2 separate regions of the Homo sapiens genome follow, and region 1 is reported to be linked to region 2. The links are microRNA targets in miRTarBase. Many come from high-throughput screens and were not tested one by one. Region 2 holds a microRNA gene; the other region holds the end of a gene's coding sequence.

What was found. The annotated mature microRNA hsa-miR-7114-3p reads UGACCCACCCCUCUCCACCAG and lies in region 2 at 1,858-1,878, shown strand. An mRNA with a match to its seed (bases 2 to 7 or 8) in the 3' UTR can be bound and repressed. Matches are read on the target gene's strand: a 7mer-m8 pairs with bases 2 to 8, a 7mer-A1 pairs with bases 2 to 7 and ends in A, and an 8mer does both.
Region 1: the mRNA of RGS11 is a reported target of hsa-miR-7114-3p. Seed matches in the 3' UTR shown: 7mer-A1 at 2,513-2,519.

The regions. Positions count from the first base shown.
Region 1 is chr16:266,510-269,509 of GRCh38, forward strand. It overlaps RGS11 (regulator of G protein signaling 11), which reads right to left. Exons shown (of 17, transcript NM_183337.3): 16 at 2,994-3,000; 17 at 1,798-2,874. The coding sequence ends at 2,760. It also overlaps a transcript of FAM234A not described here. Among named protein-coding and RNA genes, the nearest start is that of RGS11, 7.9 kb to the right of the region's middle.
Region 2 is chr9:137,448,755-137,451,903 of GRCh38, reverse strand. MIR7114 (microRNA 7114) reads left to right here and starts at 1,818; the gene lies at 1,818-1,878. It overlaps NSMF (NMDA receptor synaptonuclear signaling and neuronal migration factor), which reads left to right. Exons shown (of 16, transcript NM_001130969.3): 13 at 1,649-1,728; 14 at 1,879-1,981; 15 at 2,230-2,305; 16 at 2,413-3,149. The coding sequence ends at 2,510. RefSeq lists an enhancer at 1,436-2,635.

The sequences.
Region 1 (3,000 bases), not on the chromosome of region 2:
GGAGATGCAGCTTTGGGTGTGGCGGCAGTGAGGGGCAGGCAGGTGCTTTAGAGAGCCCTGCAGGACTGTCCCACGGCCATGTATGCAAGTGTGAAAAGCCCCGCTTCAGAGCCACACAGGTGTAACCTTGTTCCCATTGCTCCTTCCAAGGCGTGGTAGGGGGACGTGGGGGATGAGGTTGAACAGGTGGGTGCCCTCGTGCCAGGAAGCGGTTCTCTTGTCCCTGAGAAAAGTAACTCAGCCCAGAAGGCCTTGGGTATGAAAGGGCCATATAGGGCTCTGCGGACGCGTCCTATAAGTGAGAACCGCCAGGCGGGCAGGGTGGGGCTGGAGGGAGAAGGGAAGGTTCACTGGGGTTGCAAGAGCTGCCCCCTGACAGCACGGGAGGGAGGGCAGGGGGTCCCCAAAGGGAGGGGTCACCCTGCAGGTCAGAGGAGCAGCTGTGCCCCTGGCCATGGAGGGGTGGGCAGGGCCATGAGCCCCACCCTGAGAAGCCGGAGTTGAGGGGCTGGGCCAAGGGGTGCCATTGCTGGTGGGCAGAAGTTTCCCTCCCTGCAGGAACAGCCTGCACCCCCAGACTGTGAAGAAGGGATTCTTGCCCTGTGGTCACTGCGGGCCCTAGAGAGTCTGGGCCATGCCATGCCATGCCCTCTGCAGCTCTGTGGCCTTAGGGCAGGCTGGGGACAACTGCCCCTCCCCAGAGGCTTCCTTAACAGTTTCCTCACTGTTCCCCCTCTGGAGGGCAGGCGTCCCCACACACTACCCTGCTCACCCTAGCCCACCAGAGCACAGTGCCCTGGCTGTCTCCTCCCAAAGACCAGATGCCCCAAGTCTGCTGCCTGGGTCTGAGAGGGTCAAGTCCCTCCTCCACCATCGACTCCACACACCTGGGACCTGCCCCCTCCCTCACCACACACTGCACACATCACATGCACAATACATTCACACATATGTACTATACATGTGCACACCTCATACATGCAATGTGCACCACACATGCATCCTACACGACACGTGCACACACACCACACATGCATGCCTCACAGTACACCTGCACACGTGCACTACACACAATCACACGTGCTATGCGTACACACCACACGTGTGCCTCAGTGCTACACATGCCTCATACGACACGTGCACACACATATGCATGCCTCACAGTACACCTGCACACGTGCACTACACACAATCACACGTGCTATGCGTACACACCACACGTGTGCCTCAGTGCTACACATGCCTCATACACACAACACGTGCACACACCACACATGCCTCACAGTACACCACACGTGCACTACACACAATCACACATGCTATGCGTACACACCACACGTGTGCCTCAGTGCTACACATGCATCCTACACGACACATGCACATACCACACATGCATGCCTCACAGTACACCTGCACACGTGCACTACACACAATCACACATGCTATGCGTACACACCACACGTGTGCCTCAGTGCTACACATGCCTCATACACACGCACACACACCACATATGCATGCCTCACAGTACACCTGCACACGGGTGCTACACACAATCACACATGCTATGCGTACACACACTTGTGCCTCAGTGCTACACATGCCTCATACACACGACACGTGCACACACACACCACATATGCATGCCTCAGTACACCTGCACACGTGCACTACACACAATCACACACGCTATACATACACACCACACGTGTGCCTCAGTGCTACACATGCCTCATACGCACACACACCCATGCATGTGTCACATGCACCGTCACACCATAAGCTGCACCCACAGCAGGATGGGCTCAGAGCCAGGGCCCAAGGGTCTTTTATTTGTGTGCTGGACGCTGTTGGGAGTGACTGGATGTGAGCCAGCCCTATGGGTGGGGATGGCACCGCCCTACCGCCGAGAGAGTTGAAGCTGCACCCCCGAAAGGAGCCAGCTGTACCTTCACCCAGTCTGGGGGACTGGTGAGGCACTTGGGGGATGGGGAGCAAGGCCAGCTCACGAAGGAAGACTTGGGCAGGGAGGATCAGGGACGCCTGGCAAGGATCCACCCTATGGAATCGGGCCTCGTCAGTGGGGTGACAATGTCAGAGTTGTCTATAAATCGGGGGGGAGGCCGCGGCCTCGAGGTGGGAAAGCAGGTGCCGGCGCACCTGTGGACAAATTCTGGAACGCGTTTGGCGAGGGAGGAATAGGCGCAGCTCCGGAAGGCAGTGACCTCGAGGCAGCCTCAGCACGGCACTCTCTTGGGTCCTCTTCCAGGCTCACACTGGGCGACAGCGGAGAGGCTCTTGGACGGGGCAGAGCTCGCGCCGAGACCTGCATGTCCGCGTCTTGTGACGGGTGTGTGGGAAGCCGCCCGCCTGTGCATCTTGCTTCCGGGTATTCGCTGGCTGATTTACTGGTTTTAGAGATGGGGATGGGCACCCAGTGCTGGACTGAAGACCAGAGAAGGTGGAGCTCCCTGTGGCCTTGGTCTCACCTCTCTTCAGGTAACAGGCTCTGCCCTGACCCAAGCTGAGCCAATGAACCCCCTCCCTGGGAATCCACACCTGGACCCATTCCTTCTGGGCAGGGAGGGCTTGCTGGAGGGAGGGAGGCTGTGCACCCCACAGAAGACTGGGCCCCCTGGGCACAAGGGGACACTGGTGCTGGGTTCAGCAGCCCCCAGGACCTGGGCCAAGACGGGGGTGGCTGCTGCATTCACGCAGGACGTTGAGCTGCAGGGACTAGAGTGGCAGATGGGCCAGGTCCACTAGGCCACCCCATCTCCACCCCCAGGGCCACAAGCCGCTGTGGGCTCCACAGGGGTGGGAAGGAGTGCAGGGCTGGGGCTCGAGTGCCGTGGCCTCCACGTAAACGGGAACACGCTGTGGGCGAGAAGGCGGCTGAGAACAGGCTGGCCAGCTGGTGTCCTGCCCACCTCACTGCAGGGCCCCAGCAGCCCCCAGGCCACAGCCGCCGGCCACAGGGCACTGCCTGGGCTCACCGTCTCT
Region 2 (3,149 bases):
GGGTTGGGGAAGACCAAGGAGAAGAGGTGTAGACATTGAGGGGGAAAGATCAAGGAGAAGAGGCGTGTGGCGGGGGGGAAATGAAGGGGAAGGGGCGTGTGGCTGGGGGAGACCAAGGGGAAGAGGTGTTTGGGGGGTAGATCAAGGAGAAGAGACGTGGCGGGGGAAGACCAAGGGGAAGAGGCGTGTGGCGGGGGAGATCAAGGGGAAGAGACGTGGCGGGGGAGATCAAGGGGAAGAGACGTGGCGGGGGAGATCAAGGGGAAGAGACGAGGGGCAGGGGAAGATCAAGGGGAAGAGGCGTGTGGAGGGGGAGATCAAGGGGAAGAGGCATGGTGGGGAGATCAAGGGGAAGAGGCGTGTGGCCAAGGAAGACCAAGGGGAAGAGACGTGGCGGGGGAGACCAAGGGGAAGAGGCGTGTGGTGGGGAAGACCAAGGGGAAGAGGCGTGGAGGGCAGAACAAGGGGAAGAGGCGTGTGGCGCGGGAGATCAAGGGGAAGAGACGTGGCGGGGGAGATCAAGGGGAAGAGACGTGGCGGGGGAGATCAAGGGGAAGAGACGAGGGGCAGGGGAAGATCAAGGGGAAGAGGCGTGTGGAGGGGGAGATCAAGGGGAAGAGGCATGGTGGGGAGATCAAGGGGAAGAGGCGTGTGGCCAAGGAAGACCAAGGGGAAGAGACGTGGCGGGGGAGACCAAGGGGAAGAGGCGTGTGGTGGGGAAGACCAAGGGGAAGAGGCGTGGAGGGCAGAACAAGGGGAAGAGGCGTGTGGCGCGGGAGATCAAGGGGAAGAGACGTGTGGCAGGGGAAGATCAAGGGGAAGAGGCGTGTGGAGGGGGAGATCAAGGGGAAGAGACGTGGAGGGGAGATCAAGGGGAAGAGACGTGGTGGGGGAGATCAAGGGGAAGAGACGTGGCAGGGGAGATCAAGGGGAAGAGACGAGGGGCAGGGGAAGATCAAGGGGAAGAGGCGTGTGGAGGGGGAGATCAAGGGGAAGAGGCGTGGGGGGGAGATCAAGGGGAAGAGGTGTGGGGGGGAGATCAAAAGGAAGAGGCGTGGCGGGCAGGTCAAGGGGAAGAGGCATTGGGGGGAGATCAAGGAGAAGAGCGTGTGGTGGGGGAGATCAAGGGGAAGAGGCATTGGGGGGAATTAAGAGGAAGAGGCGAGGGGGGGAGATCAAGAGGAAGAGGCGGGGGAAGATCAAGGGGAAGAGGCGTGTGGTGGGGGAAATCAAAGGGAAGAGGCGTGTGGTGGGGGAGATCAAAGGGAAGAGGCGTGTGGTGGGGGAGATCAAAGGGAAGAGGCGTGTGGTGGGGGAGATCAAGGGGAAGAGGCGTGTGGTGGGGGAGATCAAAGGGAAGAGGTGTGTGGTGGGGGAGATCAAAGGGAAGAGGCGTGTGGTGGGGGAGATCAAAGGGAAGAGGCATGTGGTGGGGGAGATCAAGGGGAAGAGGCGTGGGGGGGAGATCAAAGGGAAGAGGCGTGTGGTGGGGGAGATCAAGGGAAAGACGTGTGGTGGGGGAGATCAAGGGGAAGAAGCGTGGCCGGGGGATGAAGACCAAAACTACCTCCCACGCATGTGCGTGGGTGCATGTGTGTCGGAGAGGGGGAGGAAGGAGGAGCAGATGCCTGACCACAGCTTCTTACAGGGAGGTCCTGGACACCTCTATCTCCTCAAGAACAAGGTGGCCACCTTTGCCAAAGTGGAGAAGGAAGAGGACATGATTCAGTGAGAAGCCGGGTGCCCTGGGCGCGGGGAGGGCTGGAGGCAGAGTCCAGGCCCTGGCATGTCCCTCCCCCACAGCCCCTCCTCCACGGTCCGCTCTGTGGAGTGGGGTGCCTGTCCCCTGCCACTGGGTGACCCACCCCTCTCCACCAGCTTCTGGAAGCGGCTGAGCCGCCTGATGAGCAAAGTGAACCCAGAGCCGAACGTCATCCACATCATGGGCTGCTACATTCTGGGGAACCCCAATGGAGAGAAGGTACAGTGACCCCCAAGCCCCACCCCAGACCTCTGGAAACCCCCGACGTGGACAGACAGGGCAGAGCCTTCCATGTTTCCTGGCATTTTTTTTCCTTCCCCCGGGCATTCCCCTAGAAATCCTTTATGCCTGAGCCCAGCCAGGTTTGGGGGGTCTGAAAAAAGAGGGTGGGCCCTGCTCCCCATCTCCTCCCCGCTCCTCCTTCCCCATCTCTCTGCCTCGGACTCATGGCACCCCGCTTCCTCCAGCTGTTCCAGAACCTCAGGACCCTCATGACTCCTTATAGGGTCACCTTCGAGTCACCCCTGGAGCTCTCAGCCCAAGGTGAGTTACCCAGGCTGGGCCGAAGCTCTGCAGCCACTGCGGGGCCACGGTGGGGTGGGATCCCCAGGGCCGGCCAGGCCTGAGCCTCCTGCCCCCGCTCCGCCCAGGGAAGCAGATGATCGAGACGTACTTTGACTTCCGGTTGTATCGCCTGTGGAAGAGCCGCCAGCACTCGAAGCTGCTGGACTTTGACGACGTCCTGTGAGGGGCAGAGGCCTCCGCCCAGTCACCATCAGGCCACTCCCTCTGCACCGGGACCTGGGGCTGGGCCGCCTCGTGCTCCCCGGGACTGTGTGGCTCCGGTCTCGCCTGGAGCCACTTCAGGGCACCTCAGACGTTGCTCAGGTTCCCCCTGTGGGTTCCGGTCCTCGCTGCACCCGTGGCCGCAGAGGCTGCAGTCCCTGGGGGCCGGGAGGATCCCGCCCTGTGGCCCGTGGATGCTCAGCGGCCAGGCACTGACCTGCCATGCCTCGCCTGGAGGCTCAGCTGTGGGCATCCCTCCATGGGGTTCATAGAAATAAGTGCAATTTCTACACCCCCGAAACAATTCAAAGGGAAGCAGCATTTCTTGTTAACTAGTTAAGCACTATGCTGCTAGTTACAGTGTAGGCACCCCGGCCCAGCAGCCCAGCAGCCCACATGTGTTCAGGACCCTCCCTGCCCACCCCCTCCCTGCCGTATCGATCACCAGCACCAGGGTGGCCCGTGTGCGTGGGGCCAGCGTCGCCGGGCTGCCCAGCCTGGCTCTGTCTACACTGGCCGAGTCTCTGGGTCTGTCTACACTGGCCGAGTCTCCGACTGTCTGTGCTTTCACTTACACTCCTCTTGCCACCCCCCATCCCTG